Linked DNA regions of Homo sapiens. The protein of the gene in region 2 interacts with the protein of the main gene of each other region in a pairwise test. Each region holds a gene or a part of one and is shown on either strand. Other genes may lie near its edges. The genes, in order: VAMP4, STX6, MTERF2 and TIMMDC1.

Region 1 (7,026 bases), 9.3 Mb from region 2:
CATACCCTTCAGAGATGGAGAAGCCAAACACACAAAAAAATCTAGAACTTTGAAACTAGACAGCAAATTTTATTTTATTTTCCTTTATGGGTAAGCCACAAAGGACATTTAATAAATTCCAAAAAATAGAAATTACACAAGTCATATTCTCTGACCATAATGCGATGGAAAAAGGAAGTTTTAAAATACTCTTCTCAGCTGGGTGCAGTGGCTCACACCTGTAATCCCAGCACTTTGGGAGGCCAAAGTGGGGGGATCACTTGAGCCCAGGAGTTCAAGACCAGCACTGGCAACATAGCAAGACCGTGTCTCTATGGGAAAAAAAAAAAAAAAAAAAAAATTTAATTAGCCAGGCATGGTGGCTCATGCCTGTAGTCCTAGCTATTCAGCAGGCTGATATGGGAGGATCTTTTAAGCCCAGGAATTTGAGGTTAGAGTGAGCTATGATCATGCCACTGCACTCCAACCTGGGTGACAAAAGGAGACCCTGTAGCAAAAAACCTCACAAAAAACAAAAAACATCCTTCTCATTAACTTTTATGTTAAATGTAAATAAAGGTGATTAGACTATTTTGAAATGAAAGACACTGGGAAGATCACAGGTCAAAATCTGAAGAGTATGGCCACAGCAGTACTTAAAGGAAAATGGGACCTTAGACATATTTTGTTATGAAATCACAAAGATTGAAAATATATAAATAGTTAACTCTTAAGATGGGTAAGTTATTCCTAAACAACACACAACTCCAGAAGTCTGAAAGAAAAAGATTAACATATTTGATTATATAAAAATTTAAAACTTGAACATAAGACATCAAAAACAAGGTTAAAAAACAAGCAACAGACTGGGAAAAAACATCTGCAGTATCCTTTAAGACAAAAGACCTGATGTCTGTATTATATAAAAAGCTTTGACAAACTAGTAAGAAAAAGAGACATTATAGAAAAACAAAGAATAGAAATAGATAATTCCCAATAGAAGAAATGGCCAATGACCACATGAAATGTTCAAAACCAATTAATATTCAAGGAAATGCATTAGGTCATTTTTTAAATAAATATTTCTTGAGTAATATTCTAGCTAACAAGTAACAGACAAGCATTACATTTATAATATAATGTATTTGGTTTATGGCCGGGCATGGTGGCTCACGCCTGTAACCCTGGCACTTTGGGAAGATGAGGAGGGAGGATCACTTGAGCCCCGGAGTTCGAAACCAGCCTGGGCAATACGGTGAAACCCCATCTCTACAAAAAAAAAAAAAAAAAAAAAAAAAATTAGGCGTGGTGGTGTATGCCTGTAATACCAGCTACTCTGAAGGCTACTTGGGGGGATTGCTTGAGCCCAGGAGGAGGCTGCAGAACCCTGATCGTGCCACTGCATTCCAGCCTGGGTGACAAAGCCAGACCCTGTCTCAAAATAATAATGATAATAGTAATAGTAATAATTTATTTGGTTTAGAGGATAATGATACTAAAGATATGTTTACTATAATTGTACACTGAGAAACACACATGAAAACCAATGCTTTTTCATATATTAATTGAATAAACACAAGTGCTAGGGATACAGTGTCAAAAAAGAATAATAGGACACAATGAGATAATATTTCATACCCACTAGGCAGATAATATTAAGTGTTGGTGAGGATGTGGAGAAATTAGAATCATCATACATTGCCGGTGAGAATGTAAAAATTGTACAACCACTTTGGAAAACAGCTGGGCAGTTCTTCAGAAGGCTGAACAGAGAGTTACTACAATACTCAGCAATTCTACCTTTAGGTATACACCAAAGAGAAATAAAAACATGCTCAAACAAAAACTGGTATGCTAATGCTCATAGCAGTAGTATTTAAAATAGCCAAAAGTAGAAAAAAACCCAAACATCTATGAACTGATAAATGGGCAAACCAAATGTGTTATATCAATATAAGGGAATATTATTAGCAATAAAAAGGAATGAAGATCTCCCAGCACTTTGGGAGGCCGAGGTGGGTGAATCACCTGAGGTCAGGAGTTCGAGACTAGCCTGGCCAACATGGTGGAACCCCATCTCTACTAAAAATACAAAAATTAGCTGGGCGTGGTGGTGTACGCCTGTAATCCCAGCTACTTGGGAGGCTGAGGCACGAAAATCACTTGAACCCAGGAGGTGGAGGTTGCAGTGAGCCGAGATCGCACCATTGGACTCCAGCCTGGGCAACAGAGGGAGACTCCGTCTCAAAAAAAAAAAAAAAAAAAAATGAAGCACTGATATGCACTATAACGTTGAGGAATCTTAAAAACATTATGCTAAGTCAAAGAAGCCAGTCACAAAAGGCTATATGTTATATGATTCCATTTACAGAAAACGTCCAGAATAGACAAATCTATAGGAGTGCAGTTGCTTAGAGGCTGAGGGGATAAAGAAAATGGGAGATGACTGCAAAAGGGCACAGCATTTCTTTTTGGGCTAATGAAAATATCCTAAAATTGATTGTGGTGATTGTTGCACAACTCTGTGAATATAATAAAACTCACTGAATTGTACACTTTAAGTGGGTGAATTGTATGGTACGTGACTTTTATCTCAATAAAGCTATTACCAAAAAAGTATAATAGGAAAGAGGAACAAAACTTTTAAAAGATTTTAAAAGTAATTTATATATTATTCTAACCAATCAGTTATCAAACTTCATAATATAATAAACATCAAAAAGGAGTTCTCTTGAAACAGTCAATTTTATTCAGTTCTGGTGTCTAATATACTAATAATCAATGAAGAATATAAGGAGAAAGTGATACAATTACAGTCTCAGCAGTGGAATTTATTGAGACAATACATTTTAAATTTAAAAATGTATTCATAAAGCTTATTTATTTGTATTATTTTTAATTTAAGGTTTACTATTGTTTTTCTTGAAGTAATTTTTCCTGCCCTTGTTATTAGGGTGGGCTTTATGTACTATTTAATCTGATTTCCACACATATTATTAAACTGGTATTTAATATCTACAAATAATAATTTTGTCACTATTTTCTCAGGATTATGACCAACATGCCATGAAACTGTGATCCTAGTATATCACGCCTGGACTTGATTTTTAAAAAGCAATCATATTCAAGTGACTGTGTCCTTAACAGTGATTCCATTAAGTGAACAACAAATTTACGTTCAGCAGTGATTGTGAGAAAGAAACACAGGGGAACTTAGGAAATATAAATAGTTTCAGTTTAAAATCATGTAAAAATAAAACTATAAAATTAATGGGATTTGCATCAATTAAAAATTATTAAATAATATACTCTTGCATACTATACATTGAATTTGGCTACAACCTTCTCTGCTTTACATACATTTTTCAAAATTGACATAGATTGTATGAATTACAAACAAGTTCCGAGAGGTGATTTTACTACATACATTTCCATACTTCAGTCTTCATCTTACACAAAGGCAGATGTGACTTAGGGGCTCTCTGTCCAGGACTGAGGTATTTACCTGACATATCTCAGATATCAGTCAATCAACTGTCAGCATTTATTGATCATCTTCCAGGATATTAATGCTTTGCAAGCATCTCTGGGTAAGTGACTAAAGATTTCCTTGGGGCAATAGGAAAGAGGCTCAGATTCTTCTAACCGATGATTTAAAAAATATTTCAGCATGCTTTGTGCACGCTGATCACTGAATATTCATCAGGAGCTTTCAGTCAGCTTTTACTGGATGCATATCAAGTCTGTGTTGTTTTACACTGGGTTCCTTTATAGGTTCACAATTGGTATCATTTACTTTAACAAATTGACATTTATTCTCTGAATGGGTTTAGTATTTCGCCAAACCTTCTGCTTTGTAAAGACATGCTTTTTTTTTCTTTCTGAGATGGAATTTCACTCTGTCACCCAAGCTGGAGTGCAATGGCACAATCTCGGCTCACTGCAACCTCTGCCTCCCAGATTCAAGCAATTCTCCTGCCTCAGCCTCCCAGGTAGCTGGGATTACAGGTGTGCACCACCGCACCTGGCTAATTTTTGTACTTCTGCTAGAGATGGGGTTTCACTATGTTGGCCAGACTGGTCTTGAATTCCTGACCTCAAGTGATCTGCCCGCCTCGGCCTCCCAAAGTGCTGGGATTACAGGCGCGAGCCACCACGCCTGGCCAAGACATGCTTTTGATAGTAAATCTTCAGTGTATGGAATTCCAGCACAGGTATATCAAATTTTCTGAATCACTTTTTCTTGGAGGTTTATCTTGAAAGATATTACATTAAAGAAAGAGACCCTGGATTATCCCTGAGTGATTTCTCAATCCCTGATCATCCTCTGCCTTCTCTCGGCCAGAGCCTTCCGGGTTCACCCAGACTTGGTATATTTCAAGGCATTTCTCAATTCCTTGCATGGGGAACTAGCTCAAGCAGACACTAAGAGTTTCACCATGGCATGGAGGAAAAGATAGGTGACCAAAATGGTTGAAACTGCACCAAATGCTAGTAAGCAGTTGAAATTATGGCAAAGAAGGAGTAACTGGATTTGGCAACATGGAAATCATTGGTGACTCCTTAAAGTTTATTAGTAAAAGCTTGCTAGCAATTAATCTATTGGTGGATTCTATTTCCCCATTAAAAAACAAAACAAAACAAAACAAAACAAAACAAAACAAAACAAAACAGGCCGAGTGCAGTGTCAAATGTCTGTAATCCCAGCACTTTGGGAGGCCAAGGCAGGTGGATTACTTGAGCTCAGGAATTTGAGACCAGCCTGGGCAACACGGCAAAACCCCATCTTTACGAGAAAAACAAAAACTAGCTGGGCATGATATCATGCACCTGTAGTCTTTGCTACTCAGGAGGCTGGGGTGGGAGGATAGCTTGGGCCCAAAAGGTGGAGGCTGCAGTGAGCTGTGATTGCACCACTGCACTTCAGCCTCAATGACAGAGCGAGACCCTGGTCTCAAAAAATAAAAACAAACCATCAGAAACACACAAAACCGCAAAAGCTGTACAAAGGGTTAGAATAAGGGGAAGAAAATGTTTCCTGTGTTGTACTAAAAGAAACTTATGACTAAAAGTCATAAGATGGTGGACAGAGTGGATAATATGAAGTTCTGAGGTTGTCCAAAAAGAGCATGTAAAACAAAGCAGACTAAAAGCTTTGCAAGGGCACAGACTATGTCTTCCAATTTTTAGCCCAGTGCCTAGCACATAGGAGGTGGTCAATACATATTTGTTGAATGAATCAAGACAAGAAGGAAAGGAAGGAGGGCTTCAGAATGGTGCATTAAAAAAATAAGAACGTGAATTATTTCCCCCAATAAATATGTATTGAGTACTTATTCTAAAAGTAATCTGCCTACAACATTCATATAAAATGTTGTCTTTTAAATGCGGCATAATTTCTAGATTTATATATATTTGCATAGAATGTTCTGGAATAAACTAGAAATTGAAGCATTATATAAAAGATACTCTGGAACATAAGATAATTACAGGTCTGGGGACCTTTATTTGCAATTCCAAAATCTAAAAGCTTCTGAAAATCAAAAAGTTTTGGAGGAAAATTTGACCTGAACTGATGTTAGCTAGTTTATTTACACACTTTATTTACATAGTTAGTTAGATATAACTAAATATAGACTTCACTGAGAAATATTAATATTTTTGGAGGCACTGGTCCAGGCCCCAAAAATGCTGTTACATAATATGTTCTTAACTTTCTAAAATCTGAAAAATTCCAAATACATTCAAAGTTCTGAATAAGATATTGTGTATTTGTATAAAACTCCCTTTCAAAAACTAGAAAGAAGCTATGAGAATAATGATTTGATCAATAATGGAAGTAGAATTCAGTTGTCACCAATCTAAGTAACATGTTTTTAAATACATTTGCTATGAAGAAAACAATTAGGATTAGAATATAGTCATAAGCTTTTGATTTTTCTGTTGTTATTATTATTAGTTAATTAATTTTTGAGACAGGGTCTTGCTCTGTTGCTCAGGCTGGAGTGCAGATCACAGTTCACCACAGCCTTCATCTCCCAGGCTCAGGTGATCCTCCTGCCTTAGCCTCTTGAATAGCTGGAACCATAGGCATGTGCTACCATGCCCCATTAATTTTTTAAAAATTATTTATAGAGACAGGGTCTCCCTGGGTTGTCCAAGACAGTCTTGAACTTCTGGGCTCAAGCTATTCTGCTTCAGCGTCCCAAGTGCGGCGATTGCAGGCATGAGCAACCACGCCCGGATGGTTTTTCTTCTATTATTCACAAAGGGAATGAAAACATATTTTGAATCTTTTGTTTTTAAAGCTTAAGATTCCGAACTTACCCTTTCACTTTTCACAGAACCTGTGACATCATCATCATTGAGGTGGCGCTTAAACTTGGGAGGCATATTTTTTACTTGCAAAGTATCTTTTGCTTCTCAACAGGATAGTCACCACCTTAAAGAGAAAATAAATTTCATCAGATTTGAGACTTTGGGGCATAAGCTAATGTACTTAAAACAGTGTACATGAAACCCTGTATGACAGGGACTCCCTCATTTTTCTGACTTCAATTCCTGCCCTCTCACTTGTTCCACTCCAGTGACTGGGGCCTCCATGCTAGACCTCAACACCTAAGAAATAGTTAAAATTATGAGAAAATGGATGTAATTGCCCTAAGAGAACATGTGTAGGATATGAGTGATTTAAGATTTTTATAAAATGAAAGAGCAGAGAGTAGAGGGAGGACGTCTCACTGAGACATTAAATGCTTTACAATTTAAAGTTGGAGTCAGAAGACAGGAGAACATGCCTATTTCTCTCACTTTTAGTTGGTTGCTTAAGCAATGATTCAGTTTCCTCAGGTGTAAAATACTGATTTTCAGGCTTCTGCAGAGTTGGGACGGTCAAATTGGATAATACATGCAAAAATATTCTGCAAACTATAATGTCCCATTGGTACTCCATGAAAAGGGGTAAGTTTGGTAAGTACTGGTGTGATATCGTGATTTACAAAATATACTCATTTGGTCTTAATCCCCATTTCCTGACATATCCTTGGA
Region 2 (7,026 bases):
GGGTTTCTCCATGTTGGTCAGGCTGGTCTCAAACTCCTGACTTCAGGTGATCCACCCACATTGACCTCCCAAAGTATTGGTATTACAGGCATGAGCCACCGCGCCCAGCCAATTCTTCCATTCTTCATAAATAAAAAGTTGATTCTGGCAAACCAACCTCATTTATTTTTGAAGTTAGCCCAACATTGATCCCTCGTCAGATAGTTGAGCCTCTTCCATACAACCTCCCAATATGGTACATCACCAAACTAGCCTCTGGGGCCACAAGTAATACATTCAGTCCAAATACAGTCCAAAAAAAAAAAAAATCACAAAGTTTTCTTACTTGCATCTAACCAAGTTTGCCAAGTAAAATGAGAAGAAAGAGTATCTCAGCCATTAGGGAGCTTTGTTCCCCAGTATTTGTCATTCAGTTGTACCAACAAATTGCGTAAGTGTAGCCACAACCCCCATCATCCTTTTTCCTGTTGTGGTTGAGACAGGGTCTCACTGTCAACCAGGCTGGAGTGCAGTGGTGCAATCACAGCTCACTGTAATCTCGAATTCCTGGGTTCAAAGGATTCTTCCGTCTCAGCCTCCCAAGTTGCTAGGACTACAGGTGCACACTACCACGCCAAGCTAATTTTTTTTATTTATTGTAGAAACAGGGTCTCGCTGTTGCCCAGGCTGATCTCAAACTCCTGGCCTCAAGTGATCCTCCTGCCTTGGCCTCCCCCTTCATCGTTTTGATTTATCCTTTCTTCTTTGCCCATGCTGGCAGACTCTGAATTGGCATGTTCTAGTTATCGTGGTTGTTTAACAATGACCCCAAAATTTAGTGGTGTAAAACAACCATTTATCATGTCATGGAGTCTGTAGATCAGGAATCAGACACAGCAGAGCTGACTTGTCCCTGTTCCACAATGTCTGGGACCTCAGCTGAAAATATTAAACAGGCTGGGGCTGTAAAGGCATCACATCTCTCTATCTCTCCACAGTCTGCACACATGCTCTAACAGAGTGGCTTCAATGTAACTGGACTTGTTACATGTTAGCTCAGGGTAGCCTATACTTGTGTTCCAAGATGAAAGATGCAGATGGAAGGTATAGTGGTTGTCTTTTATGACTTAAGCTTCAGGAGTCAAGCAGCGTCACTTCTGCTTCAATCTGCTAGTCAAAGCAGTTTATAAAGGTCTGCCCAGGTTCAAAGGAAGGGAATACAAACTCCAGTTTGATAAAAGAATGCCAGCTTCACAATTTAATAAAAACAAACAGCCGGGCGTGGTGGCTCACGCCTGTAATCCCAGCACTTTGGGAAGCCGAGGTGGGTGGATCACCAGGTCAGGAGTTCGAGACCAGCCTGGCCAATACAGTCAAACCGTCTCTACTAAAAATACAAAAATTAGCCGGGTGTGGTGGCATGCACCTGTAAACCCAGCTACTCAGAAGGCTGAGGCAGAAGAATCGCTTGAACCCAGGAGGCGAAGGTTGCAGTAAGCCGAGATTGCACCACTGCACTCCAGCTTGGGAGACAGAGCAAGACTCCATCTCAAAAAAAAAAAAGAAAAAAAAAGAAAGAAAAGCAACACAGGACAGAACATTTATTGGTGCAGCCATCAATGGAAAAAATACAATCTGCCACAACTCTTTTATCTGGGACAGCACCTACTCTGCAAGTCTTTACAGAGGGATCCCCATTTCATCAATACAGTAAAAGAGGCTAGTCAAGGCTGAAAGTTTCCATTCTAGTAATGAAACATGAAAAATTCAGGTTGAGTGAGCCTCTGCAACACATCAGACTCCCACTCCTCACTCTTCTCCAACTGGTTCCTGCCCCATACCCCACAAACCTGGTTTCACCACTCATCTCTCCAGAAAGAGAGGAACTCTTTTTATTGCTTGACTTCTACATTCACATCGTTTGTATTTGAAAGGAAACACATGCACACCCTTTACTTGACTTTATTGCCATTTCCAAATTCAACCACACTGTGACATATTTTGTAATTACTCTTGTGAAAATGAAACATCATTTTTACTCAGTTACCTACAATTATATACAATTTTTGACCCTAACTTACTGCTGCTTCCACAACTCCACCAATGACACTGCAGGTCAAAGTCACGAGTGAATTTAACTTGTCCTCATTTTTGGTGCACTTGACACTATGGCCCATTATATCTATTTGCTTGAAACTCTCACTTTCTCTGTCTCTGTGACATTGTGCTGTTCTAGTTTTCTACCAGTTTTCTCCTTCCTCTTCCTCCACTGGATCCCAATGTTTCTCAGTACTCTTTGTGGCCTCTATGTGCTCATCAGCATTCACAAGTTCAAAGCACCCCTCTTAAGCTGATGACTCCCCCACTATACTTCCAACCCTAACCACTCAGCCAGGCTTAATTCCTATATTTTTAGCTGCCTATAGGATCATTCCATTTGCCTAAAACCAAATTAATCATATCCTCCCTACAAAACATAATGTATTCAAAACAAACAAAATAGAAAAATCTGCTTCCCTTTCTAGCTTCCTCATTTTAGCCAATAGTGCCACCATTTTCCAAGTTTCAACACTTGTCTAGACAAGAGTCATTTTTGACTCCTCCTCCTCCTTACCTTGCACAACCTCTACTTAAATCCAATCACTGAATTTTCAGATCTGGAAAGAACTTTCAAGATAATCTAGTTTGTGCTCCTTAAACATAAATAAGAGACCTTGGGGCTCAGACATATTGGCTGCTTGCCTCAAGTTCTTCCAACCCTGATTATAAGACACTTTCTATTACCAAGACTTATTTAATTGCATTTTTCCAAAACTTCCACACAAATCTTTTTTTTTTTTTTTGAGAGGGAGTTTTGCACTGTCACCAGGGCTGGAGTGCAGTGGCGTGATCTCAGCTCACTGCAAAAGAGGGTTCAAGCAATTCTCCTGCCTCAGCCTCCCAAGTAGCTGGGACTACAGGTGCCCACCACCACACCCAGCTAATTTTTTGTATCTTTGGTAGAGATGGGGTTTCACCATGTTGGCCAGGCTGGTCTCGAATTCCTGACCTCATGATTCGCCTGCCTTGGCCTCCCAAAGTGCTGGGATTACAGGCATGAGCCATCGCACCTGGCCCACAAATCTGTTTTCTTTGTAGAATCAGAAGATCTGGGTTTGAACCCTTAAAAGCTGACTATAAGCAAGTGAATAGTAACTGCTAGTTTAAAAACTGCCTCCTGATTTAGAATTTATGATAGAAATCAGATTAAATTTAAACTCCTCAGGCAGGTATTCAAACCCTCTCCCACTCCTCCTCCTAACCCAAACTGGCTGACTTTAGTATCAAGCATGGTTTCTCACTGAACAAATTCTGTTTCAGTTGGCAGGTCTTCTTCCCATCTTTATCTTTCTCATTCCTGGTTCTTGACTTCCACTCAGTTGTTTCCCCAGCCTAGAAGAGCCTTACACCTCAGCAGACACTTCCTTTAAGGCCCAGATTGACCAGCATTCCCAGCATGGGTCTTTCTTTTTTTTTCAATCTCCACAGCATCTCAACTCTACTGCAAAATCTTACACAATATATCTTTCACTTATCTGCATAGTGTTCTCCAAACTAAGGAGCTAAATAATATTAAACACTCAAATTTATAATAAAGGCTTGCAAATTTGTTCTTACAACGAAACACTGGATTCTGCTTTTTAGAAAGTATTAAATTTGATTTACATTCAATTTTACTAGGCCAAAATTAACAAACAAGGGTTATTTTTTTCACAGTGACTATACCAATACAGTTTTTCAACAGTGAATAGAATGCGTGATGCCCTCGAGGAGCTCATAATCTAGTGTTAATAAAGCTAGATATGCAGACAGAGAAGGTTAAAGAACACAACATAACATATACCATCTTACTCATCAGCTTACTTATGTCATTATTTCAACATCAATCCACAGCCAAAAACCTGGAAATAAAACTGTTATCATGCTGGGTGCGGTGGCTCATGCCTGTAATCCAAGCACTTTGGGAGGCCGAGGCGGGCAGATCACCTGAGGTCAGGAGTTCAAGACCAGCCTGGTAAACACAGTGAAACCCTGTCTCTACTAAAAATACAAAAACTATCCGGGCGTGATGGCGGGCTACTCGGGAGGCAGAGGCAGGGAGAAGTGCTTGAACCCGGGAGGCGGAGGTTGCAGTGAGCCAAGACGCGCCACTGCACTCCAGCCTGGGTGACAGAATGAGACTCTGTCTCAAAAACAAACAAACAAACAAAAAAACCATCCTCGGCTGGGCGCAGTGGCTCATGCCTGTAATCCCAGCACTTTGGGAGGCCGAGGTGGGAGGATCACGAGGTCAGGAGATCGAGACCATCCTGGCTAACACAGTGAAACCCCGTATCTACTGAAAATACAAAAAAAAAAAAATTAGCTGGGCGTGGTGGCGGGCACCTGTAGTCCCAGCTACTCAGGAGGCTGAGGCAGGAGAATGGCGTGAACCCGGGAGGCGGAGCTTGCAGTGAGCCGAGATCGCGCCACTGCACTCCAGCCTGGGCAACAGAGTGAGACTCCGTCTCAAAAAAACAAACAAACAAACAAACAAAAAACTATCCTCATCAGACACACAAAACCTCCACAGCAATAAAATAGCAAAGAGCCATGGTATTTGTACCTTTTATCCACAGGAGTGGCTCACTTATACTCTGTCTCCACATGCTCAGTTACATGGTTTTCTTCAGGGTTTGTCTGATTAGAAGGTGCAAATTCTAAAAGGAGGCTAATTCTAAAAACTTGCCAACAAGGGAGGAAAAAAACTACAGAACTAAACAATCAAAATGGGTTCACTCAACAAACACTGAGTACATCCTTACTGAATACAAAGATGAAGACTACAAGATTTAAATATGATATTTTCACCCGGAGATTAGTAAAGATTTTTTTAATGAAAATCCCAGTACTGGAATCAAGGGAATTGGGTCCCTCAAACACTTTGAGGGGCAAGGGGGAATATTCTGGAGGACAACGTGGTAGTATGCATCAAACGCTTTGCTGTGCCTGCCCTCTGAATTAGCAATTATGCTCCAGGAATACAGGCTATGAAAATCAGAAGCAGCAATACAGACCTATGACAAGTAGGCTTATCACCACATTAATTGTAGTGTGATCATAAATATAATGTATCTTCCAGGATGAACATTTATATGACAAAATACAATGCAGTCATTAAAAGCTGCCACCCAGAAGTCTGAAGGATATAAAGAAATACAGATGAAAACGTCATAAAACAGGCCAGGCGCGGTGGCTCATGCCTATAATCCCAACACTTTGGGAAGCCAAGGTGTGTGGATCACCTGAGGTCAAAGTTCAAGACCAGCCTGGCTAACAGGGTGAAATGCCATCTCTACTAAAAATACAAAATTAGCCAGGCATAGTGGCGCACATTGGTAGTCCCAGCTACTTGGGAGGGTGTGGCAGGAGAATCGCTTGAACCCAAGAGGTAGAGGTTGCAGTGAGCTGAGATCACGCCATCGCCATTGCACTCCAGCCTGGGCGACAGAGTAAGACTCTGTCCCAAAAAAAAAAAAAAAAAAAAAAAAAAGAAAAGAAAAAGTGATAAAACCATATATAACGTATAATCCCAATTTTTAAAATGACCATATTATATATATAATATATATTTGTAATAAATATATAAATCCTGGCCCTTCTACGTACAAGCTTATAAAGTTGAAGTTTTTTACTAAGTTTCATTTTCCTTTTTGTGAAATGATGACAATAATAATACCTACTTCATAAGGATAAAAGAGCAATCCCTGTTGTGGGATTCTGTTCCGAACAGGACATTGACAATGTCAAAACCTCCCAAAAGGAGCTTCAAACTTCCAAGCACTAACCACTGCATGTATAAGTTACAACAGCTTTCTAACTGGTCTCCTTTTTCATCTTTCCTCACACTGATGCATCCAACACTACCACCAAATCAATATTCCTAAAATCCTAATTTCATGTCATTTCCTTGCTTTAAAAATCTGTAATGGCCTCAAGATGAGATTCTCCTTAGGCCAACATAACTTGACCCTATTTTACCTGCACTGGGAAGTATTGACAGTAGTGTGAAATCAGGTTGTTCTAATTTGAAGCCTGAGTACACCACTTATTAGCTGTGTGACCCTAGGCAAGTAAGTTAACCCCTCTAACACTTCCTCAGCTTCTCATCTCTAAAATGTGGCTAGTATTCATCATATGGGTGTTTTTACAGAGTGAAAATTCATATAAAGTGCTTACTTAGCACTTTACATGTATGCCTGGCACTGGAGATGCATCCTTTAAATGTGAGCTGTTACTACTTCCCTAAACTGTCTACTCCACCTGGGCTGCTCTTCCAGATCATTTCTAACACACATTGCCCAACTTAGGCCTTTGGCTGGTGGTGTTCTCACCCATGAGGCACCATTCCATCACAATCACCACCATCAACAAAGAGTATGTGTTCAACATTTACACTATATATTCAAGGTGTAGGCTGGAAATACAGAGGAAAAAAAAAAAAAAAACAGTCCCAAACCTCAGAGCTCATAGTCTAATAATGAAAGAGAGACAGAGGAAGAGGTCCAATAATTAGGGGTGACAAAGGAAGCACTTCCTGGAGGCAAGGGAGATGCTTACACTGACTCCAGAAAGCTGCGTGGGTGAATCAGGCAGTGTGGGTGCATGTAGAGTAAGAGCATCCAGTACAGCAATCACAGTCACTGTATTGAGTCTGGCACTGCTGGAGTACTAAGGCTAAGGGAGAGCAGAGGCTAGATCAGTGAGGTCAGGAAGTGTTGGCACTTTATTCTGCAGGCCAGCAGCAGCCACTGAATAATATTAAGTAGGGTACACCTGTCTAGGACTCTAGAAAAGCTTACACTGTGCTGTCCAACACGGAAGCCACATACAACTACTGACTGGAAATGTGGCTAGTGTGACAGAAATTAAATTTTAATTAATGTAAACTTGGTAACTGATAGCAATTCAGTTATCAAAAACCTTTTATGTATGTTTGGAACAATTAAAGAGTATGTAGGCCGGGCG
Region 3 (7,999 bases), on a different chromosome or scaffold from region 2:
TCAGCCTCTCTGGCCTGAGAACTCTCAAGCCCTTTCTCAAGTGTTTGCTCCTTCAGGTGTATCCTCCTCTGATGCTCCAGCCATCACTCCACTGCTCTTCCTGTCCTTGCCCAAACCCTCTCTCTCTCCACTGCTCTTCTTTTCCCTGCCCAAACCCTATCTTTCTCTTCACCTCAGCTAATTCTTGCAGATCCTTCTTTCTCTCCATTTCCTCTTCTACTTATATAGCTTGCGATAAAGATAACTTTCATGTGGTTACAGCCAATGAGTAGTTTTCATTCTTATCTCTTTTTTTTGTAGAGAAGGGGTTTCACCACATTTCCAGGCTGCTCTTGAACTCCTGAGCTCAAGCGATCTGCCCACCTTGGCATCCCAAAGTGTCGATTACAGGCGTGATGTGGTTTGGCTGTGTCCCCACCCAAATCTCATCTTGAATTGTAGCTCCCATAATTCCCTTGTGTTGTGGGAGGAACCCAGTGGGAGATAATTAAATCATAGGGGTGGTTTCCCCCATACTGTTCTCATGACAGTGAATAAGTCTCATGAGATCTGATGGTTTTATAAGGGGAAACCCCTTTCGCTTGGCTCTCACTCTTTTCTTGTCTGCCACGATGTGAGATGTGCCTTTCACCTTCCGCCATGATTGTGAGGTCTCCCCAACCACGTGGCACTGTAAGTCCATTAAACCTCTTGCTTTTGTAAATTGCCCAGTCTTGGCTATGTCTTTATCAGCAGCATGAAAAAGGACTAATACAAGCCATGAGCCACCACACCCAGCCTTCCTTATCTCTTTTGACTTCTGCAGCTTTTAGCAGAGTTGACCACTTTCTCCTTGAAATATTCTCTCATTTGACTTCCTGGACACTCGACTTTTTTTGATTCTTCTCCCTTTCTATACTTCTCGCCACCCTCTATCTGTCTCCCATACAAGCTCACCTTCAAGGCTTGGTTCTAGACCTCTCTTCTTCTTACCTTACAGTCTCTCCCCACAGATCTTGTCCTCATCCAGATATTCAGTTCATCCACTTGGGATTCTTTCCAACTTCTTCTCAAAATGTGATCTTGTCAGTTCCCTGCAATAAACTTGCCAATGGCATTTTAGGATAAAGACAAAGTAAAATAAAACATAGAAATGCCTTACCATGGCCTACAAGGCCTCTTTGGGCTCTGCCACCACCCTAATTCCCATTTCCCTCTCCTGCACCAGCTGCATTTGCTTCCTGTCAGTCCCTGGTGCTCTACTGGTTTCTACCATGTGGTCTTTGAAGACTGTGGGCCAGATTCCATGCCCAAAATGCTCCAACTTTTAGGCCTAAGTGTCACTTTCTCAAGGAAACTTTTCTAACCTTCACGAATACATGAAGCCTCCTGTCCCCATTACATGATTTCATGGCACCATGGACTTTTACACTTGCGCACAAGTGGTACAACAGCTGCAGCTGTTCACGTGTTGTTTCTGTCTCAACACTACATGGACAGACTGGTCACCACAGTGTTCCAATGAACTGCTTCCCTATCCTTCACCCAGCTGCCTTCACTGCCTCTAGGAGGCATTCCTGGGCAGGTGGCCTTCTGTGTGCTCTTCCACAGCACCCTGCTCCGGACGCTACTGCAGCACTTATTATGCTCTTACAAGTTCTTCATTCTTCCAACCAGTAGGAATTTTGTTGCTGTTTGTTTGAAGTTCAAGCTGTGTATCAGGCATACTAGGCACAGATCTGCTAAAACAACACTTCTTCACACCTCTGTTTGGATCACAGATCAACTCAGAACCTGAGAGTCACAGACTCTCTTTCCAGAAGAAAAGACCCACGCTCACAACATTTCGCAAATGATTTTAGCAGGATTCATGGACACCCTGCAGCCCGGCCATGAATGACCTGCACTAGATTTACAAGCGTTGGGAAGGCAGGAACTGAACGGTGTTCTGCTTTATTCCCTGCACCCAGCAAAGAACTTGTTCCACAGAGAGACAAAATTAGTATTTGTCAGGTGAAACTGAGTGAACAAGTGGATGCGGTACATTAATGCAGTGGGTAAAACTGGGTTAGCAGAGCCAGACTGCCTGATTCCTGGACAACAGTTGTGTTGTGACTTGAAGAAGTTACTTCACCTCTCTGAGCCTCAGTTTGGCATCAGGAAAATGGTGATACTATCTCCTGGGTGACTGCAAAGATCAAACGAGTTAATACCATAAATCACTTAGAATATGCAGAAAACTCTTCACATATACTAAATCATTAAATCATCACAACAACTCATTTTAAAATGAGGAAACAGACGCAGGTAAAGGAACTTGCCCAAGGTTACTCAGCTAAAAAAAAAAACAAAAAACAAAAAACCGGCAGAATTTGGACTCAAACCCCACAGGTTGGCTCCAGAGTCCTGCCTGCTCTTAGCCCTGTGCCCCCACATATAGCAATGCTTTTGGTAAATGTTTGTTAAATCACAATGTGGGCTGTTCTAGGATGCTTGTTTCTTAAGCATTTTTGGGGAGTGAAATTCACTTCTGTAATACACAGTTATGGTTAGTATGGTCTTCTCTACACCACCACTGGTTTCAATAAAGTTCTTCTTTCGTAACACATATGCCCTGCTGCCAGTTTCAAATTGACCAACGTTTATAAGCAAGGAAAAACGAGGGTCCACGGAAGATCTCCAGGACCGATCAAAAGGCCGCACATTCACTGTGGGGCCTCCGCTTTTCCAGAGAAACCCGGCAGGCTGAGCTGAGCGTCTGGCGAGGCGTGGGGTTTTGCGGGCCCTGACCGCTGCGGCGCCGCTGGTGAGGAACACGCCCAGGAGCAGAGGAAGGGGGCGACTCACCCGTCGGCGTCAGCTCCAAGCAAGGCACAGGGAGTCCCGGGGGCCAGGCCCCGTCCTTCCCTCTCTCTCCGGCCAGCCTCCCCACAGTCCGCAGTCCCCGAGGCCTGGAGCCGGGATTTCGGTCCTCGGTCTCAAGAAGCTCCCGACAGTTCTCAGCAGCGCCAACCAGGCCATCAGTCCCTTCGCCCATGGCCAATCAGGGCTCGGGAGATGACCGCCAACCCCCGCCCCCCCAAGACACGCCCCCGCGTCCCAACGCAGCCAGTCAGAGCGCGGGACACAACTACGCGTCCCTCCCCGCACCACGAGGGCGAGTCGGAGTGGGAATCGGCTTTCCAGGCAGCCCAGCCTGTGCTGGCGGGGGCATCTGGCATTTTCACACCCTTTCCTTCCCAGCATTTTAGGAAGCGGAGTTCCAGTAGCTTTGACGCTTAGAAAATATAAGAAAAAAAAGAAGTAACAGAAACCGCTATATCTTTAAGATAGAGCCAATCACTGTTCCCAAAATAATTCAGTTAGGTAAAGAACCAACTTACAAAAGAAATGTTTAAAAAACCCCCAAAGTTCTTTGAAACACATCTGAACTCTTCCCCGCCCCCACCCTACCCCAGCAGTTAGCGACTGTCTTTAAAAGCCATTCTCCTTTCTCTCCCTCCTTGCCACCTTCACCTAAATACTCCCCTTTTCTGATAAACTGCCAAGTGGTTTCCATTCTAATTATTACCGGTGATGCCCAACCTCATACACTAAACACGTTAATTTCTCCTTAAAGCCAGGCTGAATGTCTCTCTCATTTATTTTCACATTTATCCATCCAAAAAACAAGTATTTATGGCAGGCCTGCTAAGTGCCAAGCATATTGAAACAGCAATGAGAAAATAGAGGGGGAATAAAACACATTCCCTGTCCTTATGGAGCTTACATTCTAGTGGAGGGCAGAGATATCAACAACTAATAACGTGACTAATCACACCTAGTTAAGTGTTATCGAGGACAGGGTGCCCTGAGCTGGGCCTGGTGATTCTGTTTGTGTGGAGTTGGAGTCAGGAAAACTGGTTTTCCCAGCTGGAGGTGTCTGCTGTCAGGTGTTCGTAGCACACTGTGCACAGTTCTGCCGTCGGTGGCACTGGCATACAGACTGCCCTCGCACCCTGTGGAGTGAATTCCTTGAGGCTACTGATTATTTTTTCTGTCAACAATGCTGGGCACACAGTAGGAACTCAGGAAATGTTAACTAAATCTTTGAGTCTAGTCTCACTATGCAGTTTAGGCTCAACAGGCTATATTGAGAGGAGCTCACACGTGCATTTAACTCCACTGAGTAGCAGCAAGAATCCTGGCTCCTCAAGATCACCCACCTCTGATCTCTAGGATATTCTAGAATGATCTGAGCAACTCATGTGTACAGCTGGGGGGTGTTTGTCCAGCAACTCCTGAGTTATCCGAATATAAAAACTCTATTATGCATAGATTTATTGCACACTTTTTCCTGAAATAAAATGATTTGGGGTCCAGACTAACCAAAGTGTGTCATTTGCACTTAGGAAAAGGAAATTAGGATACAGAAAAGGAAGTTAAGGAATGTAAACTCAGGACTTAGAACTGCAAGCTGCCATCACTGGTCAGGAGGGAGGGAGCAGAAATGTGCACCAGGGTGCTGGAAGCTTGTATTAGGGCTCCACGTAATTGTGCAAGGAATTACAATACATATGACCCCGTGCATTGTAATCAAAACTTGAAACTGACAAATCAGCTATGCCAACTGTATTAAATAAATGCTACTCAAAGTTTTTTCCAGCCCAAATATTTAAACAGTGCATTTCTAGGACCATATAATCAGAAAAAAAACCTTGAATGAAGAAAAGGGGAAAAGAACTTACAATTATGCATATTATGTACAAGAAAATTACAAACACATTTGAATTGTGAGAAGATCCTGAAATTTCTAGTATGTAAGAGATGCATTAAAAATACTGATAGACTTTTATATCTCAAATTTACTTATTTATTTTAAGCAAATATGAAAAACATAAGGACTTTGTACAGTTCATTCAAAACCCTGGTTCTCTCAATATAATTTTCCCAAGTTGTCAGTACAGTTTTTGGCAATAAGAATTGAAGAAGTATTTGCTGAATGAGTAAAATGTCTTAAATCCCTTAACCACAAGTAGGATTTCTAGTTAAGGGGAGAACACTGATTCGAACATCATGTATCTGCTCAAGTAGAGCATGATGACTGATGCCTTTTCTTTCCCTTTCAGTGATTCATTTTGACCACTATTTACACCAAACTGAAAAAGCTTTCCAAAAAACTCCCTAATAAAAAAAAAATCCTCTTACATTTATAAATAGCATACCAGTGCTTATGCTGAGATAGTGTTCTTTTACTGTTTATTTATTCACATTAAAACTGAATCTTTGGCCGTGCGCGGTGGCTCATGCCTGTAATCCCAGCACTTTGGGAGGCCGAGGCCAGCGGATCATGAGGTCAGGAGATCGCGACCATTCTGGCTAACGGTGAAACCCTGTCTCTACTAAAAAATACAAAAAATTAGCCGGGCGTGATGGCACGCGCCTGTAGTCCCAACTACTCGGGAGGCTGAGGCAGGAGAATCGCTTGAACCCAGGAGGCAGATGCCGCAGTGAGCCGAGATCGTGCCACTGCACTCCAGCCTGGGCGACAGAGTGAGACTCTGTCTCAAAATAACAACAAGAAAACTGAAATCTATGACCTCTTGTACGGTGATGGTAAATCTCAGGTCTATGAATTTCTCAACTCTGCACTGTACAACCAGGTCCAAAGAGTAGGATGTGAGGTACACTTACCATAAAAAACAATTAAAATATTACTTCACTTTAACAGTGGTGAAAAAAGAACGATAAAGCACAGGATTTTTTCTTATTCTTTTTCTCGGTAATGGATTTCCCACCTGCCGCCCCATCCCCGAGACAAGGTCTCACCCTGTCATCCAGGTTGGAGTGCAGTGGTGCAATCATAGCTCACTGCAGCCTCAAATCCCCTAGATCAAGCCATCCTCCCACCTCAGCCTCCCAAGTAGCTGGGACCATAGTGCACACCACCACACCTGGCTAATATTTTTGTTGTTTCCTTTTGTAGAGATGGGGTCCCAAGATGTTGTTCAGGCTAATCATTTTTTTTTTTTTGAGACAGAGTCTCACTCTGTCGCCCAGGCTGGAGTGCAGTGATGTGATCTCGGCTCACTGCAAACTCCGCCTCCTGGGTTCATGCCTCAAGTGATTCTCCTGCTTCACTTCAGTTTCCCAAAGTGCTAGAATTATAGGCATGAGCCACCCTGCCTGGTCTTCTTTACTTTTTTTTTATTTTTATATTGATTTTTTAAAAATAGAGATGGGGTCTTGCTAAGTCTCCAGGGCTGGTCTCAAACTCCTGGCTTTAAGTGATCCTCCCGCCTCAACCCCACAAAGTGCTGGGATTACAGGCAATGAGCCACCACACCCAGCTCAGATGAGGTCTTGATCTGTCCACCCAGGCTGGAGTACAGTGGCACAATCATAGCTCACTGCAGCCTTGACCTCCTGGGCTTCAGTGATCCTCCCACCTCAGCCTCCAAAAGTGCTGGGATTATAGGCGTGAGCCACCACACCTAGCCTCAGTAATGGAATTTATTGATCATTGTTAATTCACTATCCAGGATATTTTTAAAAATGCATATCATCTAAAATGTTATCGTTTCTGTATTTTTACTCAACTTTTATCTTCAGTTATCTTTAAATTATCATACTAAATATCTATCATGATTAATGATGGGAAAATGAAAAGCCACTGGTTATAATTCAGAATGGCAAGAACTAACCTACTAGAGAACACTAAAGGGATAATAACAATACTAATAAAAATAATGGCAGCTAACCAGAGCTGTGGCATACAGCTATGCAGACTGTGCACTGTACACGACAGGGGGTGACACAGCATGGCAGCCCTGTGGCTAACACTGAGTACCCTATCACATGCCAGCTCATAAGTATTTTACATGGAACTGAACTATAAAGCAGATACTACCCTCATCCCTATTTTATAGATAAGAAGAAAGAAGACATAGAAGGTTAAACTTGCTCAAGACCTCAAAGCTAATGAATGGCAGAAATGGGCATTTGACTCGAGAGCTCACTCTATTGATTGCTAGCCCATACTGCCTGATTTATGGTTACAAATGCCATTACTTGAAAAAAGTCCCTTTAGTTTTACCTCTTTCTTGCATATAATTTTGAAAAACACTGTTTAACTAAACATATGGTAGCTGTTCCTTCAAAATGATGATGTGGTTTATAGAATCTCTTTGTAATTTGTAATCATATATCATACAGCAATACTCTCTCCCTTACCAAAAAAGAAAAAAAAACACGTACACAAGATTTCATATTTGCATATACTTTAATAACAAGTTCATTTTAGTAATAAATGAACAAAGAAACAGAGACAGAGAACTTAACACATGATACTTCCACAAGTTTGGGTCTAAAAAGGTTTACATCAAAGTTTAAAACATATACTGTCTGTGTTAACAGAGGCTACAATACCAATTTGGATTACGCACATTATCTAAAACATTATTATCAAAGAGTGCAAAGTTAGATCAAACAACATCAAGAAAATTCTGTCCTAAAATTTTAACGTCTTTTAAGAAAGTCTAAAAACCTCCTTTTTTCCCACTGACTTCAAAACTTTGAGTTTTATATCAGAATATCAATTTGTCATTTTAACTTTACCATACATGAAAAATTATCAAAAATATATCGATGGGTCTATACTAATTGTGACTGTTTATATTTACATTAAGCAAATTCTCTTGCCAAGTTCTTTATATACAAATTACCAATTGTCCTCTGTGAAATTCATTAAAAAGTTAAAAACCACAGAAATGTCATTAGAAACAACATATTTCAATATGTAACTGCTTTCCATCAATGAAGAATATTTTTAAATAACTTAATTGAAAAGTATTGAACTCCCCACCAATTTCAGCTGCAACAGTATTCCTCCTGAATGTTTTCTGTGATTTAAGGGGGAAAAAAAAACTAGGTAAAGCTTGATTGCAAATAATTCAATGACAAAAATGTGATGAGTGTTTATTGACCTTATCTTCAAGATACTTATAGTCTAATTAGGTTGACATAAAAAAACTAAGCAATA
Region 4 (7,026 bases), on a different chromosome or scaffold from region 2:
GACCATTCAAATATCCTCTCTTCCAGCTACTTGAAAATATACAATAAATTATTAACTATAGTCATCCTACAGTGCCACAGAACACTAGAATTTATGCCTCCGATCTAGTTATAATTTTGTATTCATTAATCAATCCCTTAAATCTCCTCTTCTTATGCCTTTCCCTGTCCCCTCCTCAGCCTCCAGTAACCATAATTCTACTCTTTACTTCTATGAGCCCATTTTTTAGCTCCCACATGAGCAACAGAACATGCAGTATTTATCTTTCTGTGTATGACTTATTTTACATAACAATGTCCTCCAGGCTCATCCATGTTCCCACAAATGACAGGATTACATTCTTTATTATGGCTGAATAGTATTCTATGGTGGATATATACCACATTTTCTTTATCCATCCATCTGTTGATGGACACTGACGTTGATTCCATACCTTGGCTATTAATAGTGCTACAATAAGCATGGGGGCGCAGATAACTCTTTGATATGCTGGTTTCTTTTCCTTTGGATAAATACCTAGTAGGGAAGATTGCTGGATCTTACAGTAGTTCTATTTTTAGTTTTCTGAGGAACTTCCATACTGTTTCTATAAAGGCTGTAATAATTTGCATTCCTACCAAAAGTATATGAGTTCCCTTTTCTTTCTACATCCTTGCCAAAATTTATTTTTTGTCTTTCTGATAATAGACATTCTAATTGGGATAAATATCACTCCAATTTCCCAAACTGTCCCCAAACCACATTTCATTGTGGTTTTGATTTGCATTTCCCTGATTAGTTATGTTGAATACTTTTTCATATACTTGTTAGCACTTGTAGGTATTTTTTGAGAAATACAAGTTTCCCCCCAAGCTCCCCCGCCCACTTTTTTTTTTTTAAAGAGACAGGGACTCACTTTGTTGCCCAGGCTGGAGTGCAGTAGCACAATCATGGCTCACTGCTGCCTTGAATTACTGGGCTCAAGGGATCCTTCAGCCTCAGTCTCCCAAGTAACTGGGGCTATAGGCATGCACTACTGTGCCTAATTTTCTTTTGTCTCATGCTGTCACTCAGGCTGGAGTGCAGTGGCACCATCTTGGTTCATTGCAACCTCCACCTCCCAGGCTCAAACAATCCTCCTGCCTCAGCCTCCCACGCAGTTGGGATTACAGGTGTGCACCATGACAATTTTTGTATTTTTAGTAGAAATGGGGTTTCACCATGTCGGTCAGGCTGGTCTCGAACTCCTGACCTCAAGTGATCCGCCTGCCTCGGCCTCCCAAAGTCCTGGAATTACAAGTGTGAGCCACCGTGCCTGGCCTCCAATGCCCTTTATTTCTTTTTCTTGCCTAACTGCTCTGGCTAGGATTTCTAATACTATGTTGAACAAGACTGGTAAGAGTGGGCATTCCTATTTCATTCCAGTTCTTTGAGGGAAAAGCTTTTCACTTTTCCCTGTTCAGTATGATATTAGCTGTGAGTTTGACATATATGGCCTTTACTGTACTGAGAAATAGTCCTTCTACCCCTAACTTTTTGGGAGGTGTTACCATGAAGGGGTGTTCAATTTTACCAAATGCTTTTTCTCATTTACTGAGATGATCATATGGTTTTTTTCCTTCCTTCTGTTTATATGATGTAACACATTTATTGATTTGTGTATGCTGCACCATCCTTGCATCCCTAGGATAAATCCCACTTGTTCATGATGTATAATCTTTTTGATGTACTCTTGGATTTGGTTTGCTGGTATTTTGTTAAGGATTGTTTTGTAGAATACATTGGCCTGTAGGTTTTGTTGTTGTTGTTGTTTAATGAGCCTTTGTCTGTTTGTTGTTGTATAAGGGTAATGCTAGCCTTGTAGAATGAGTTTGGAAGAACTCTCTCATCTTCAATATTTCGGAACAGTTTGAGAATTGGTCTTAATTCTTCTTTAACTGTTTGGCAGAATTTAGCAATGAAGCCATGTGGTCCTGGACATTTCTTTGTTGGGAGACTTTTTATTACCAGTTCAATCTTGTTACTTGTTATTGGTCTGTTCAAGTTTTCTATTACTTCTTGGCTCAATCTCGATAGATTATAGGGGCTCAGGAATGTATCCATTTCCTGTAGCTTTTCCAATTTCTTGGCATACAGTTGTTTCATAATAATCTCTAATGATATGACTATGTCCGTGGTATCAGTTGTAATGTCTCCTTTTTTGTTTTTTACCTTAATTGGGTCTTTTTTCTAACTTGTGGTTTCTTGATTTTGTTTTCAAGAAACCAACTTTTCATTTAGTTCTTCTTTTGTGTTTTTTTGTTTGTTTTTAAGTCTCTATTTCACTTAGCTCTGCTCTGATCTTTTTATTTATTTCCTTCTGATTTTGGGTTTAGTTTGTTCTTGCTTTTCGAGTTCCCTGAGGTGCAGTGTTAGGTTGTTTATTTGAAACATTTCTACTTTTTGATGGAGGCATTTATTGCTATAAACTTCCCTGTTAGTGATGCTTTTGCTGTATCCCATAGGTTTTGGTATGTTGTGTTTCTGTTTTCATTTGTTTCAAGAAATTTTTAAATTTCCTTCTTAATTTTTTCATTGACCTATTGGTTGTTCCAGAGCATATTATTTAATTTCTGTGTATTTGCACAGTTTCCAAAGTCCTTCCTGTTACTGATTTCTAGTTTTATTCTGCTGTGGTCTGAAAAAATATTTGATGTTATTTTGATCTTTAAAAATTTGTTGAGACTTGTTTTGTAGCCTAACATATGGTTTATCCTGAAGAACACTTCAAGATAAGAAAAACGTGTATTTTGCAGCTGTTGGATGTGATGTTCTGTAAATGTCTGCTAGATCCATTTGATCTACAGTACAGTTTAAGTCTGATATTTCTTTGTTGATTTTCTGTCTAGATGATCTGTCCAGTGCTGGGAGTGTGGTGTTGAAGTCCCCAGCTATTATTACATTAGGGTTTATCTCTCCCTTTAGCTCTAATATTATTTGTTTAGATATATATATATATGGATGCTCTGGTGTTGGGTGCATATATATTTACAGTTGTTATTTCCTCTTGCTGAATTGATCTCTTTACCATTATATAATGACCTTGTCTCTTTTTATAGTTTTTTATTTAAAGCCTATTTTATCTAGCATAAGTATAGCTATTCCTGCTCATTTATGGTTTCCATTTGCATGAACATCCTTTTCTATCCCTTTACTTTCAGCCTATCTGTATCTTTACAGGTGAAGTGAGTTTCTTGTAGTCAGTATATATAGTTGAGTCTTTAAACTTTTTTTTATTCATTCAGCCACTCTAAATCTTTAATTGGGGAATTTAAAGTGTTTATATTCAACATTGTTATTGATAGGTGTGGATTTACTCCTGTCATTTTGTTAACTGTTTCCTGGTTGTTTTGTATAATCTTTGTTCCCCTTTCTTCCCCTCTTATTTTCATGGTTGGTAGATTTTTGTAATTATAAGGTTTGATTCCTTTCTGTATCTGCTCTACCAGTGAGTTTTATTCTTTCACGTTTCCATAATGGTAGTTACCGTGCTTTTGCATTCAGATGTAGGAGTTCTTTAAGCATTTCTTATAAGGCAGTCTAGTGGTGATAAATTCCCTCAGTGTTTGCCTGTCTTGAGAAGACTATTTCTCCTTCATTTTGGAAAAATAGCTTTGCTAGGTATAATACTCTTGGCAGGAGTTTTTTGGGTTTTGTTTGTCTGTTTGTTTGTTTTTTCCTTTTAGCACTTGGAATGTATCATCCCATTCTCTCCTGACTTGTAAGGTTTCTGCTGGCAAATCTGCTGTTAAACTGATGGGGGGAGGTAAATGGTGGCAGTGGACCCTGGATGAGCCAGTCTTCAGGGGGTGCACGTGGCAGCTCAGCCACTAGAATTGGCAGGGTTGCCAGTGGTGGAAGACTCCAGGTGAATGACCTTAGAATGGCCATAGCCAGCCATTCTTAAGCTTTTCCATCTCAAAATCACTGATCTCTAAATCACTGACAAACTTCTGCAGTTTTTAATGTTTCATTTACTTTTTTAATTTTTTTTTTTTTTTGAGATGAAGTATTGCTCTGTGGCCCAGGCTGGAGTGCAGTGGCGCAATCTCAGCTCACTGCAACCTCAATGCTTTTCTTCTCATATAGCACTTAAGTCCTTGGATGATGGACCTACAGCTCTTAAGAATTTCCGTGTGTGTGTCTGTGTGTGTGTGGTTAGCAGAAATGGAGGTTTCAAATGAAAACACTGGAAAAAAATGATTTCTCATCTATCCAATTATAATACCAAAACAGCAACAGCAGCAGCAGCCAATGCTGTCTTAGGTACCCAGGAAGGTGAACTAGTGAAAATCATTTGTACTCAGGAGCACTAGATGGCAGCCTGTTATATTCATCTTACATATTGAATCTGTGCAAAGTCAGCTATCAGTCTGATTGCCCTATCCCACAAATTGCATCCCAGGAGATGATTAGATGCAATAGGTGAAAGTTTTCATGTTCCTCAGTGGCATTCAGTGCATGAACAACCATTGTCCACCTAATTCCTCTGCATCTACAGCAAGAAATAGAATTTTTGTGGAGACTTAACATGCTGTGTCTTACTTACATATGTATGCAAAAAAAAAAAAAAAAGTCACTTTTTTTCTTTTTTGAGACCGAGTCTTGCTCTGTGGCCCAGGCTGGAGCACAATCACGGCTCACTGTAACCTCCGCTACCCAGGTTCAAGTGATTCTCCTGCCTCAGCCTCCTTGAGTAGCTGGGACTACAGGCACGTGCCACCATGCCCAGCTAATTTTTGTACTTTTAGTAGAAATGGGGTTTTGCCATGTTGGCCAGGCTGGTCTCGAACTCCTGACCTCAGGTGATCCACCTGTCTTGGCCTCCCAAAGTGCTGGGATTACAGGCATGAGCCACCCTGCTAGGCTAAGGATGTCACTTTTTAAGTAAGCCAGGTAAAGCTCACTCCTTGGTGAATATTCCCTTTAGGTAATTTCCTATGCAGTTAAGAACACAGGAAAAGAAAAAACATGCAAGCAAGATTTACACCACTTTTAACTTAAAAAGATATCCAAAGAAAGATCTTCATTAAATTAAAACTAAAATCAATCTCTTTCATTTTTCCATTCTCCTTAAATAGATTAAAAGACAATGTACAGTATGAGTTGAAGGACTTGGTAAAAATAAACTCTTCTTTGAATTGAGTGGCAGTTTAGAGTACATAAGTTTAAAAGAGCACCACTATATAAGGCCTGGGGCAAGAGAGCCAAGATTCCCTGGGCTCAACATGTTCCTTACCACTCTTCCAGTTTTAGCTCATGGAGTGCCTTTCGATCCTTCTGTTTTCTTTCCTGAACAGTCTCACCAGAGTACTTCTGAAATGCCATCAGCAGGCCTCCTACAGGAGTGCTGAGAAGAAAGGAGAGGGAAAGCTTAGGAAAAACGAGTCATTAGACCTTGCAACATGTGAGATTCTCTGCTAAGGTGTGAGCAACACCAGAGCCACTTGTTCACTATTAGGTACAGGAACATTTGAGAATTAAAGTGTCCTTGTCAAATAAAGAAAAACATTGAGGTAATCTCTTCCTTGGTCTGAACAACAGACAAAAACAATCACTACAACCTCCTAAAGTTAACTGATATATAATAAAACAACAGATCTAGAAACTGGCTGTTTTTATGAGGAATGAGAAATAAATCAAAACAAAGAGGAAAAATATATATATTTATGACAAGTTCTAGTAAGTAGCCCCACACCAAAGATTTCTCAAAAATGAAATTTCTAGTTCAGAATGGCACCAGCTCCTCTAGGAGACAGGAAATGTGGAGGGCATTTCTGGTTGAGGGAGGGATGCTACTGGCTTTTGGGGGTGGGACCACCAAAATATCCTGAAGTTCAAGAGTCTGGCGTAACTGTCTCACCCACAATGCCAATAGCAACCCATTGAGAAACTGATTTAGATAATAATTATTATAGTGATGAAGAGAGTTTGGTTCTTGTGTTCTCAGACTAGAAGTATTTGACCTTCATACACCTTAAATTTCCTCCAGCTACAATTTAAGTAACCTCATACTAATAACTATTTTTGCTAAGTGGAAGCAACATAAATGTTCACTGACAGATGGTTAAAGAAAATGTAACATACACATACAATGGAGTATTATGCAGCCTTAAAAAAGAGGGCAATCCGTTCAACAGGTTACAACATAGATAAACTTCAAGGACATTATTATGCTAAGTAAATAAGCTAGTCACAAAAGGACAAATAGTGTATGATTCCACTCATATGAAGTATCTAAAGTAGTCAAAATCTTAGAAACAGAAAGTAGAAATATATTTGCTGAGGGCTGGAGGGTATGGGGAGGGGAAATTAGTTTTTAATGCATATAGTTTCATTTCTCAAGATAAAAAAGTTCTAGAGATCTCATGCACAATGTGAATATACTTAGCATTTTTGAACTATACACTTAAAATATGATTAAGATGGTGAATGTTATGCTATGTGTTTATTACCACAATAAAAAATATTTTTGTTGCTAACTCCTACAACTTTTCCCTTCAAACCAAACTGGTATATTAACACTACAACAAAAGCAATGGCAGCAGTAGATTATGACATGCTGATTTTATTTAATTCAAATTTTTAAAAAAATCATTAAATCTATAGCATTACCTTCTCCTTCAAAGGAGGTAGACAAAGGGGTGAACAGGTGGAGGACGAAGGTAGCACTCTTCTAGTCAGACAAATACCAACTAATAAAAACAGAAGAACTGACAGAACTAGCTTATCAACATTTACAACCACCTTTCTAGTAACCAACCGATTACAGCATGGGTCGTCAATGGATCATTAAAAACACATGATGAAAAGATAGCTGGAGAGCAGAATATTCAGTTTCACCCTCCAGATTACTAATTAATCACATTGGGAAAAAGATATCTTTGCAATGGAGACACTGAACAGATAACACCTTAACCAAGTGTGGTAGGCAGAATTCTAAAGTGGTCCCCCCAAATATCCTGCCTAATCCCTCAACTGTGAATATATTATGCCCATGATTATATT

The links.
Region 1: the proteins of STX6 (region 2) and VAMP4 interact in binary tests that used the Homo sapiens proteins (3 or more experiments, as listed by UniProt).
Region 3: the proteins of STX6 (region 2) and MTERF2 interact in binary tests that used the Homo sapiens proteins (3 or more experiments, as listed by UniProt).
Region 4: the proteins of STX6 (region 2) and TIMMDC1 interact in binary tests that used the Homo sapiens proteins (3 or more experiments, as listed by UniProt).

What each region holds. Positions count from the first base shown.
Region 1 is NC_000001.11:171,732,043-171,739,068, forward strand, and holds part of VAMP4 (vesicle-associated membrane protein 4), read right to left. Parts: intron 6,422-7,026; 5' UTR 6,373-6,421; coding exon 6,307-6,372; intron 1-6,306. UniProt on the Homo sapiens protein: Involved in the pathway that functions to remove an inhibitor (probably synaptotagmin-4) of calcium-triggered exocytosis during the maturation of secretory granules.
Region 2 is NC_000001.11:181,012,864-181,019,889, forward strand, and holds part of STX6 (syntaxin-6), read right to left. Parts: intron 1-7,026. UniProt on the Homo sapiens protein: SNARE promoting movement of transport vesicles to target membranes. Targets endosomes to the trans-Golgi network, and may therefore function in retrograde trafficking.
Region 3 is NC_000012.12:106,984,143-106,992,141, forward strand, and holds the start of MTERF2 (transcription termination factor 2, mitochondrial precursor), read right to left. Parts: upstream 3,005-7,999; 5' UTR 2,827-3,004; intron 2,168-2,826; exon of another isoform or gene 1,084-2,167; 5' UTR 973-1,083; intron 1-972. Other genes in the region: CRY1 (cryptochrome-1), read right to left, coding at 7,796-7,859. UniProt on the Homo sapiens protein: Binds mitochondrial DNA and plays a role in the regulation of transcription of mitochondrial mRNA and rRNA species.
Region 4 is NC_000003.12:119,515,547-119,522,572, reverse strand, and holds part of TIMMDC1 (complex I assembly factor TIMMDC1, mitochondrial isoform 1 precursor), read right to left. Parts: intron 5,369-7,026; coding exon 5,258-5,368; intron 1-5,257.